Linked DNA regions of Homo sapiens. The main gene of each other region encodes a partner of the protein of the gene in region 2 in a complex. Each region holds a gene or a part of one and is shown on either strand. Other genes may lie near its edges.

What was found.
Region 1: DHX16 (region 2) and PPIL2 share a complex: the UniProt entries of both Homo sapiens proteins name them as parts of the minor spliceosome.

What each region holds. Positions count from the first base shown.
Region 1 is NC_000022.11:21,661,539-21,669,207, reverse strand, and holds the start of PPIL2 (RING-type E3 ubiquitin-protein ligase PPIL2), read right to left. Parts: upstream 3,197-7,669; 5' UTR 3,109-3,196; coding exon 3,077-3,108; intron 1-3,076. UniProt on the Homo sapiens protein: Has a ubiquitin-protein ligase activity acting as an E3 ubiquitin protein ligase or as an ubiquitin-ubiquitin ligase promoting elongation of ubiquitin chains on substrates.
Region 2 is NC_000006.12:30,652,461-30,656,131, reverse strand, and holds the end of DHX16 (pre-mRNA-splicing factor ATP-dependent RNA helicase DHX16), read left to right. Parts: intron 1-534; coding exon 535-697; intron 698-795; coding exon 796-957; intron 958-1,252; coding exon 1,253-1,426; intron 1,427-2,761; coding exon 2,762-2,890; 3' UTR 2,891-3,005; downstream 3,006-3,671. Other genes in the region: uncharacterized protein C6orf136, read right to left, coding at 3,217-3,330, 3,415-3,484. UniProt on the Homo sapiens protein: Required for pre-mRNA splicing as a component of the spliceosome. Contributes to pre-mRNA splicing after spliceosome formation and prior to the first transesterification reaction.

The DNA.
Region 1 (7,669 bases), on a different chromosome or scaffold from region 2:
CCTGGGGGACGGGGGAGACTCTGTCTCAAAAACAAACAAAACAAAAAACAAAAAAAACCGGCCGGGCAAGGTGGCTCACGCCTATAATCCCAGCACTTTGGGAGGCCAAGGCGGGCAGATCACGAGGTCAGGAGATGGAGACCATTCTGGCTAACACGGTGAAACCAGTCTCTACTAAAAAAAAAAAAAAAATAGAGGGCCAGGCACGGTGGCTCACACCTGTAATCCCAGCATTTTGGGAGGCCGAGGCGGGCGGATCACCAGGTCAGGAGATGGAGACCATCCTGGCTAACACAGTGAAACCCCGTCTCTACTGAAAATACAAAAAATTAGCCGGGCGTGGTGGCAGGCGCCTGTAGTCCCAGCTACTCGGGAGGCTGAGGCAGGAGAATGGCATGAACCCGGGAGGCGGAGCTTGCAGTGAGCGGAGACCATGCCACCGCACTCCAGCCTGGGCGACAGAGCGAGACTCCGTCTCAAAAAAAAAAAAAAATGGTATCTTATTGCCACAAAGAGTCTGTTTTGTCAATCTTATGATTTCTATTTCTTTATTTTTATTTATTTTATTTATTTTTTTTTTGAGACGGAGTCTTGCTCGCTGCCCAGGCTGGAGTGCAGTTGTGCAATGTCGGCTCACTGCAAGCTCCACCTCGTGAGTTCACGCCATTCTCCTGCCTCAGCCTCCCGAGTAGCTGGTACTACAGGCGCCTGCCACCACGCCCAGCTGATTTTTTTGTGTATTTTTAGTAGAGATGGGGTTTCACCGTGTTAGCCAGGATGGTCTCGATCTCCTGACCTGGTGATCCACCCGCCTCAGCCTCCCAAAGTGCTGGGATTACAGGTGTGAGCCACCGTGCCTGGCCCCTTATGATCTCTATTTCAACATTAATGCTGGTCAGTTGTTGTGTCTAAGCCACAAAAGGGAGGGGGATATAACAAGGCACAGCTGATCTCTATCCCATCATGGCCAGGAACTCAGTTTTAAGGTTTTCCTGGGGTTCTCTTGGCCACAAGGGTGTCTGCTTAGCCAGTGGGGGGACTTAGGGTTTTATTTTTAGTTTACAGGGAGGAGCAGGCTCAAGAGCTGAAAATCAAGAGTTCTGTTTAAGGCATATTAAATTCGAGATGTCTGGCCCGGCACGGTGGCTCACGCCTGTAATCCCAGCACTTTGGGAGGCAGAGGTAGGTCGATCACTCGACGTCAGGAGTTCGAGACCGGCCTGACCAACATAGTGAAAACCTGTCTCTACTAAAAATACAAAAATTAGCATGGGCATGGTGGCAGGCACCTATAATCCCAGCTACTGGGGAGGCTGAGGTGGGAGAATTGCTTGAATGTGGGAAGTAGAGGTTGCAGTGAGCCAAGACGGCACCATTGCACTCCAGCCTGGGCGACAGAGCAAGACTCCATCTCAAAAAAAAAAAAAAAAAAAAAAAAAAAATTTGAGATGTCTTTCAGTCCTCCAGTGGAGATATTAAGTAAGCCACTAACTACACAAGACTGGGGAAAGCAGCTTATAGATGACTGGGAAATTATATCACCCACAGAGAATGTTTATGGAAAAGAAACGTATGAGATCTGAGAGAAGGGAGGAGGGTCCAGAAAGGAGACTGGGAAAAGAAAGACCGCTGAAGTCGATGGAAAACAAAGAGCATGTGAAATCCCAGATACCAAAGAAGGGCTTCAGAAGGAGGGAGTGGTCAACAGTGGGACATACTGTTGAGAAGCCCAACAAAATGAGGACTGAGGCTGCCCAGACGCGGTGGCTCACGCCTGTAATCCCAGGACTTTGGGAGGCCGAGGCAGGTGGATCACCTGAGGTCAGGAGTTCGAGACCAGCCTGACCAACATGGAGAAACCCCTTCTCTACTAAAAATACAAAATTAGCTGGGCATGGTGGCGTATGCCTGTAATCCCAGCTACTCGGGAGGCTGAGGCAGGAAAATCTCTTGAAGCCGGGAAGCGGAGGTTGCGGTGAGCCAAGATCTCACCATTGCACTCTAGCTTGGGCAACAAGAGCGAAACTGCGTCTCAAAAAAAAAAAAAAAAAAAAATGAGGACTGAGGATTGAATACTATATTTAGCAACAAGAAGTCGCTGGGAACCTGAAAAGAGAGGCCGCTGAAGTCGAGAGAAAACAAAGAGCAGGTGAAATCCCAGATACCAAAGGAGGGCTTCAGAAAGAGGGAGTGGTCAACGGTGTGACATACTGTTGAGAAGCCCAACAGTTCTGGGGTCGAAATTCTGACTTGAGTGGTTTCAAGAGACTCAGAAAACAGCATGAAGCCACTAGTCTCTCACTTGTTCTTAAGAGAAACAACACGGCGGCAGCGGGAGGGGAACGTGGGACGTGGGGCACGGGGCACGGGTGGATTTTTAAATTTTATTTATTATTTTTGAGACAGCGTCTCGCTCTGTCGCCCAGGCTGGAGTGCAGTGACACGATCTCGGCTCACCGCAACCTCCGCCTCCCGGGTTCAAGCGATTCCCCTGCCTCAGCCTCCCAAATAGCTAGGATTACAGGCGCCCGTCACCACGCCCCGCTAATTTTTGTATTTTTAGTAGAGACGGGGTTTCACCGTATTAGCCAGGCTGGTCTTGAACTCCTGACCTCAGGTGATCCGCCCGCCTCGGCCTCCCAAAGTGCTGTGATTACAGGTGAGCCACTGCGCCCGACCTGGTTTGCTTTAAATTAGAAGGCTCTGCAGCACGTTTGCAGGCTGATAGGCATGAACCAGAACACAGCGAGACGTGAAGTACGGAAGAGGTAGAGACTACTCATTCAAGGGCGAAACTCGCGAACAGACGGGGGACGGTCCGGGCAGAACCAGAGTAAGGAAAACCGGGCTGCGCTCGAGCCCGCAGCTGACGTCATCGGAGCCGCGGCCCCGGGAGAGCGCGGCGGCCCGAGGGTCATTACCCTGACTGGAGACAGGGCGGCAGCTTCCGGGAGGAAGTGACCTTTGGGCTGTGCTCTGGGGAGTAGCTGAGAGGGAAGGCGAGCGGCGCGCAGTGCGGGACAGGCGGTTCACTGAGGCAGAGTGGAGCGCCGCTCCCGACTGCGGCTCAACTTACATTTTGTCCTTTTGGTGCTGTCGCTTCCCCATGGCGGAGCGGCGGCGGCGACTAGCGAGCACGAAAAAACAACGGCTGACAACTCAGACCATGGAGCCGCAGCCGAGTTCCGTGACCACTTCCGGGTTCCGCGGCGCGCCCCGGAAACGGGCGCCTGGCGTGCTGGGAATTGTGGTTCGCTAGCGCCAGGTGCTCATGCTCGGAAGGATCGCCTGCCCAGTATGGGGTCCTAGCTAGGTGTGCCATCTCCCGCAGGCGTCTTTTCGGGGCCGAGCTCCCTCAGCCTCGAAGCCCCATCTTCTTGAGGGGTCTGTCTGGACCGCCTTGTCTACCCCCCTAGCCACGGCTCAGGGCCATTCCCATACTGGGTTCTCAGGTCTTATTTATTTATTTTCGAGACAGGGTCTCGCTCTGTCGCCCAGGTTGGAGTGCAGTGGCACAATCACAGCTCACTACTGCCTCGACCTCCCAGGCTCAAGCGATTCTCCCACCTCAGCCTCCCGAGTAGCTACGGGCACGCACCACCACACCCGGCTAATTTGTTAATTTTTTGTAGAGACAGGCTCTTACAATGTTGCCCAGGCTGGTCTGGAGCTCTTGAGCTCAAGCAGTCCTCCCGCCTTGGCCTCCCAAAGTGCTGGGATTACAGGCCTGAGGCTTCGCGCCCGGCCAGCGCTCAGGTCTTTTTCAACGTCCTCCTAGAGCTTCAAGTCTCATGAGCCTCCACCCCATCCCTTCCCGCCTCCGTGGCAGATGCCTTCAAAGCCATGTACCACTCTCGTTCTACTCGCTCACTTCTCATTCTCTCTGCATATTCGGTCCCCACCGCCTCCAGGCCCCTCGGAGGCCCAGCAGCAGGTGGCCATCAAGCCTAGAGGTCCAAAGCCCTACCTGATCCCTTCCGTCTCTTCTGCCAGACCCTTCCCTTGGGTCAGATCAGTACCTTGGGCCCCTAGCTACACTCAGGCCCAGGGTAATCTTGCCTAGGCTCCTAATTTTAAATGCCATTTGTATCCCATGACTCCCAGTACTAAGTCACCAGCACTCCAGGTTCCTGATCTCCACTTGGGTAACCACTGATCTGAAATGTAACATGTCTGGATGGGCGTGGTGGCTCACGCCTGTAATCCCAGCACTTTGTGTGTGTGTGTGTGTGTGTGTGTGTGTGTGTGTTTAGTAGAGACGGGGTTTCACCATGTTAGCCAGGATGGTCTCGATCTCCTGACCTCCTGATTCGCCTGCCTTGGCCTTCCAAAGTTCCGGGATTACAGGCGTGAGCCACCACGCCCGGCCAATCCCAGCACTTTGAGAGGCTGAGGCAGGCGGATCACTTGAGGTCAGGAGTTCAAGACTAACCTGGCCAACATGGCAAAACCCCATCTCTACTAAAAATACAAAAAATTAGCCTGGTGTGGTGGCACACACCTGTAATTCCAGCTACTTGGGAGGCCGAGACAGTAGCTTGAACTGGGGAGGCAGAGGTTGCCGTGAGCCAAGATTAGGCCACTGCATCCCAGCCTGGGTGACAGAGTGACTCTGCCTAAAAAAATTAAATTAACATGTCTGGTCAAAGTAGAATTTTCTTTTTTTTTTTCTTTTTTTTTTTGACATGGAGTTTTGCTCTTGTTGCCCAGGCTGGAGTGCAATGGTGTGATCTTGGCTCACTGCAACCTCCGCCTCCCAGGTTCAAGCGATTCTCCTGCCTCAGTCTCCCAGGTAGCTGGGATTATTACAGGCATGCGCCACCACGCCTGGCTAATTTTGTATTTTTAGTAGAGAAGGGGTTTCTCCATGTTGGTCAGGCTGGTCTCGAACTCCCGACCTCAGGTGATCCTCCCGCCTCAGCCCTCCCAAAGTCCTGGGATTACATGCATGAGTCACCGCACCCGGCCATAAAGCAGAATTTTCAATCCTCCCTCTTCTCCCAGTCCCCACTCTGCTGAGCAGTACCACCATCCACCCAGTCACCGAAAGCCAGCTATCTTTGCCTTATTTCATGGCTGGCTTCTTATTCTCTAGGTTTTAACATAAGTGTCACCTCCCCAGAGAGACCTTCCCTAACCACCCACTTCCATGCATCTCCCATAAAGTCTGTCACAATTCCTCACAATTTGTAATCCTGTGTAATTCAGTCTGTGTCCCGGTTTACTGAGCACCCTCCCTGACACAACCACTGCCTCCATGACACACATACAGTGGATGGGATGTAGCTCCTTAAGGGCTGGAATCTTAGGCCCAGCATGGTGGCAGCACCTGTGATTCCAGCTACTTGGGAGGCTGTAGTGGAAGGATCACTTGAGGCCCAGGAGTTTGAGGCTGCAGTAAACTATGATCAAGCCACTGCACTCTAGCCTGGGCAACAGAGTGAGATCCTGTCTCTTTAAAAAAGGGCCGGGGTGTGGGGAGGGGACAGTCGGTGCGGTGGCTCACGCCTGTAATTCCAGCACTTTGGGAGGCTAAGGCGGTTGGATCACCTGAGGTCAGGAGTTCGAGACCAGCCTGGCTAACATGGTGAAGCCCTGTCTCTACTAAAAATACAAAAATTAGCTGGGCGTGGTGGCATGTGCCTGTGATCCCAGCTCCTCAGGAGGCCTGAGGCATGGTGATCGCTTGAACCTGGGAGGCAGAGGTTGCAGTAAGCTGAGATCGCGCCACTGCACTACAGCCTGGGCAACAGAGCACAACTCTGTCTCTAAATAAGCAAGCAAACAAATAAATACAAACCAATTAAAAATAACCCATTTGTGGTGATGCACCATGATGACTCAGTCAGAAAGCAAAATGCACCAATAACCTAAAAATTGACCCCATTGGAGAAATATTTCAAAAAGCAAGAACAGTTGAGTAAATGATGTTCCACCCGTTTGATGGAATATTTTGTATCTATTGTTATTGGTGAACTTAAAGATTTATTATTATTATTATTATTATTATTATTATTACTTTTTATTTTTTGAGATGGAGTCTCGTACTGTTGCCCAGGCTGGAGTACAGTGGCGTGATCTCGGCTCACTGCAAGCTCCACCTCCCGGGTTCAAGCAATTCTCCTGCCTCAGCCTCCCGAGTAGCTGGGACTACAGGTGCCTGCCTCCACCCTCTGGGCTCAAGAGATTCTCCCACTCACGCCTCCCAAGTAGCTGGGACTACAGGTGCGCACCAACATGCCTGGCTAATTTGAATACCTGAGCTCAAGTGATCCCCCACCTCACTCCTCCCAAATTGCTGGGATTACAGTAGTGCACCACCACGCTCGGCCAGAATTCTGAATTGTCTTTTTATAAAACAGTGTGAGTTCCTTACACAAAAAGTCCTCTGAATTCTTTTTTTTTTTTTTAAAGACAGAGTCTCACTTTGTCGCCAGGCTGGAGTTCAGTGGCACGATCTTGGCTCACTGCAACCTCTGCCTCCTGGGTTCAAGCGATTCTTCTGCCTCAGCCTCCCAAGTAGCTGGGACTGCAGGCATGAGCCACCACGCCCTGCTGATTTTTGTATTTTTAGTAGAGACAGGGTTTCACCATGTTGGCCAGGATGGTCTCCATCTCTTGACCTCGTGATCCGCCCGCCTCAGCCTCCTAAAGTGCTGGGATTATAGGTATGAGCCATTGTGCCCAGCCAAGGCCTTTGAATTCTTATTCATTGCTGGATGCAAAATGGTACAGTCTTTTTGGAAGACAGTTTGGCTATCGTACCCTATGATTCAGCAAGCATGCTCCTTGGTATTTACCCAAATGAGTTGAAAAGTTATGTATACTCTAAAACCTCCACACAGATGTTTATACTGCTTTATTCATAATTGCAAAACTTGGAGGCAACCAGGATATCCTTCATTGGGCGAATGATAAAATGTGGCATATCCAGGCAATGGAATATTATTCAATGCTGAAAAAGATGAGCGGCCAGGTGTGGTGGCCTAACTGCCTGCACCTCTTGACTCCCCACTTAGCCTGTGTGACTCATTCAGGTCTGGCCTCCACCTCCAGGCAGTCCTCCATCCCCCAGGCTGGGTTCAGACCTCCTTAGTTCCCAGCGTGCCCGACCCCATCTCCTGTACCCCTAACCAAGCTCAAGGTGGGCACAAGAGATGGTCCCAATGTATCTGCTGAGTGAATGAAAGCCACGTCATTCTTATGGCTCTTCTATAAGGTACTTTTCTTCAAATGAGGCCAACAAACTTATCCTGAGATTTCCTTTCTATCCTCCAGGTGAAGAATTTGGACATTTCAAGATCTGAAGTGAAATTAAACTGGAATGGCCTGTCACGAAACCCAAGGAGGTCGAAGGGGTTTACTCTGGGCTTGAGGGAAATGAAAAAGGAGCATCTTGGGGAGTGTCCCATGTGCCAGCCTAGGTCACCATTTCTTCTCAGTCTGTTAGTGAATCCTCACAACCATCCTGAGTGCTTATTCTCATTTTACAGTGGAGGGGTCTGGGCTCAGAGGTTGGCTCTGTGTAGGCAGTGCCTGTGCCCGTGCTGTAGAACTGCACATGAGGTGTGGAGGGGCCTGGGGCTGACGTCCCCTCTCTGCCCTGTCTTGCAGCCACATGGTTGATCTGACTGGTTGATCTGACTCCCTTGGTTCTCAACCCTGGAGG
Region 2 (3,671 bases):
CCCCTTTGTCTGTCTTTTTCTGTTCATCATACTATCCCTTAACACATAATAAAGTATTAGATAACTCTGATTGCCCCCTTTTGAGGCCCACAAGGGTAAGACACTTGATCCTATCCTTGATTCCACTGCGCCCGGCCCCTTGAGGAACTTACTTGTTCCTAAGGTTTCCAACTAGAACATTTAGATGTAGCTGTGGAGGGATGACCTTTAAATGCCATTCCTCTGCTGTCAGAGATCTTTTCCAAATGCACATAGTGAATGCACACTTTCTGCAGAAGCCTCAGAATTCCCCGGTGTTTCCTGCTCCTGCCTCCATGGATGTCCCTCCTTTGTGACTGTGTTTCATCTATGGCCCCTACTTCCTTGACCCCCAAGCTGCTGCCAGAATCTATCTGCTGGCTGCTTTGTAGCCATTATGCCAACCAGCCTTCCCCACATGAGGAAACATCCATCACACAGTGATCACTCCCCACTCCACCATATCTGTTCCTATGTGTCTTGCTTTGAACTCATGCTTTCCCCTTCCTGTCCCAGGTACAGCTGTTCAGAGGAGATCCTGACAGTGGCTGCCATGCTCTCTGTCAACAACTCCATCTTCTACCGACCAAAGGACAAGGTCGTCCATGCTGACAATGCCCGTGTCAACTTCTTTCTCCCTGGCGGTGACCACCTGGTTCTGCTAAATGTTTACACACAGGTCACTGGGCTTGGGTGAGTGGGAATGAGAGACACTGGGGGACTTTAGTCCTGCTGTATACTTAATTATCTCTCCTTTCTTTTTAACTGTCTTCCCAGTGGGCTGAGAGTGGTTACTCTTCCCAGTGGTGCTATGAGAACTTTGTACAGTTCAGATCGATGCGCCGAGCCCGGGATGTGCGGGAACAGCTGGAAGGGCTCTTGGAACGTGTGGAAGTTGGTCTCAGTTCCTGCCAGGGGGACTATATCCGTGTACGCAAGGTCAGCATTTCTTCAGCCTCCTGCTTTCCACCCCCAGTACCTTCCCAGGAGCAAGCTTCTCTGGGGGCATGCAGCATTTCCTCCAGCGTGAGAGCATGCCCTCTTCCCCTTGTGTATGACGTGTCCTCCCAGGGCCCTTTCTTCCCCAGACCACTGAAGGTTCATTCCTGGGAAGTTCTTCATGCATTCCTTACCTCTCTAGTTTTCCTGAAGCCTGAACTAAAAAGGTAGTGCATTCTTAGGGTCCCCAGATGTCTGCCTTTTCCATTGATTTTCTTTCCTGCCCGCTCCTTAGGCCATCACTGCTGGTTACTTTTACCACACGGCACGGTTGACTCGGAGTGGCTACCGCACAGTGAAACAGCAGCAGACAGTCTTCATTCATCCCAACTCCTCCCTCTTTGAGCAACAGCCACGCTGGCTGCTCTACCACGAACTTGTCTTGACCACCAAAGAGTTCATGAGACAGGTGAGGAGAACATCCTGTGCCCACGCAGGTGGAGACTATGTAGAGAGATGGTGTCCTGGCAAGCTAAGAACCCAGGTTCAAGTTGCTGGGACTGGTACAGAAAGAGGAAGGTAGGGTAAAATAGAAAGACATCCTTTGTTTTTTTTTGTTTTTTTTGAGACGGAGTCTCACTCTGTTGTCCAGGCTGGAGTGCAGTGGCGCAATCTAGCCTCACTGCAACCTCTGCCTCTGGGGTTCAAGAGATTCTCATGCCTCAGCCTCCCAAGTAGCTGAGATTACAGGCGCAAGCCTCCAGGCCTGGCTAATTTTTGTTATTTTTAGTAGAGATGAGGTTTCACCATGTTGGCCAGGCTGGTCTCAAATGCCTGCCTCGGCCTCCCAAAGTGCAGGGATTACAGGTGTGAGCCACCATGCCCAGCCCAAAGACATCCTTTCTAACAGGTGTGTCAGCATCTTCCAAGATCTGAGAACTAGACACTTATTCAATAAATATTTGAATGGCTACTGTATAGGTGCTGGGGCTATAATGAACAAAGCAGTCTCTGGTCTCACAGAGTATAGTCTTTATGTTCTAGGCTTTTCTTTTTTTTGAGAGTTCCGTGCTGTTGTAGCCCAGGCTGGAGTGCAGTGGCACCATCTCAGCTCATGCAACCTCCGCCTTCGGTTTCAAGTGATTCCCCTGCCTCAGCCTCCAGTGTAGCTGGGATTACAGGTGCCCACCACCACGCCCAGCTAATTTTATATTTTTAGTAGAGACTGGGTTTCACCATGTTGGCCAGGCTGATCTCGAACTCCTGACCTCATGATCCGCCTGCCACGGCCTCCCAAAGTGTTGGGATTACAGGTGTGAGCCACTGTGCCTGGCATGTTGTTCTAGACTTTTCTTGGGAATAGCTTATTTGGTATCTTGAATAACATACAGAGGTGTATCTGCCCTTTGGGTATATAATAATAGAGCCAGGCACCTTTACACCTAGCCCTGCAGTCAAAGAGGAAAGATAACTTTTGACCATACACATAAGGATCTAGGTTGGGGCTGGGCATAGTGGCTCATTTTTGTAAACCATCCCAGCACTTTGGGAGGCCAAGATCAGCCCAGGCAACATAGTGAGACCCCAACTATACAAAAAATTAATGGTGCACTGTGATGTGTGCCTGTAGTCTCAGCTACTTGGGAGGCTGAGGCAGTAGGACTGCTTTGAGCCATGATACGCCACTGCAGTCCAGCCTGGGCAATAGAGCAAGACTCTGTTTCAATTTAAGAAAAAAAAATAACAACAACAAAAGATCTATGTTGGAAAGAAGGGAACTCCATTGATCTTTTCTCTCTCCTAGGTACTGGAGATTGAGAGCAGTTGGCTTCTGGAGGTGGCTCCCCATTATTATAAGGCCAAGGAGCTAGAAGATCCCCATGCTAAGAAAATGCCCAAAAAAATAGGCAAAACACGAGAAGAGCTAGGGTAAGAGAAGGACGTAAACAGAACCTGACACCAGCTCCTTTTCCTTCTATACATTATTTAATACCTATTAAATAAAATTATTTTTGGAATAAAGCTTGTGGGAACATTTGGGATCTAGAGAAAGTGATATGTGAAATTCTATCTCATATAGTCAGTTAAACTTTATTATTTACAAGTTAAATTACACAGCAGCTTTACACAGCATGAGATGGAAAGGAAGGAAGGAGAGAAACGAGGAGAGGAAGCTGGCTCCTGAGATTCTTGGCTGCCTCCACCTCCTTCTCTTGGGCGTAGCAGTCTTCAGTGCTGCCTCCACTCCAAGGTCAAGGATCAGGGCTTGGAACACAGGTTTAAGTCAGGTTCTGGCTCTGACAGCCCCAGGGCCACCAGGGCTCCCACTAGCAGCTTCTTCACAGGCGTTGGAGGTGAGTGTGAAGGCATCAGCTGCAGGGAGAAAGGTTAATGCCAGTTGGGGGAGGCACACAAATGTTCTACCCTTTACCCCACCCAGCCCTACCTAGGACTCACTTTATCTAGACGATGGCGACAAATGAGGCCACTGGAATTCAGGTAGAAAGTGGAGTAGGCATCATAGGTCCTGGGGAATAGAGGGAGGCTTACTGAGGGAGAAGGTGACTGGTCCCAAAGCTGAATTCAAGCATTTGTTTAAACGAGTAGTCCCTAAATTCTGCTACATATTAGATCACCTGGGCAACTTACAAACATCTCAGTGCTTAGGTTGTGCCCTGTCTCAATTAAATCAGAGTGTTTGGCGTCAATATTTT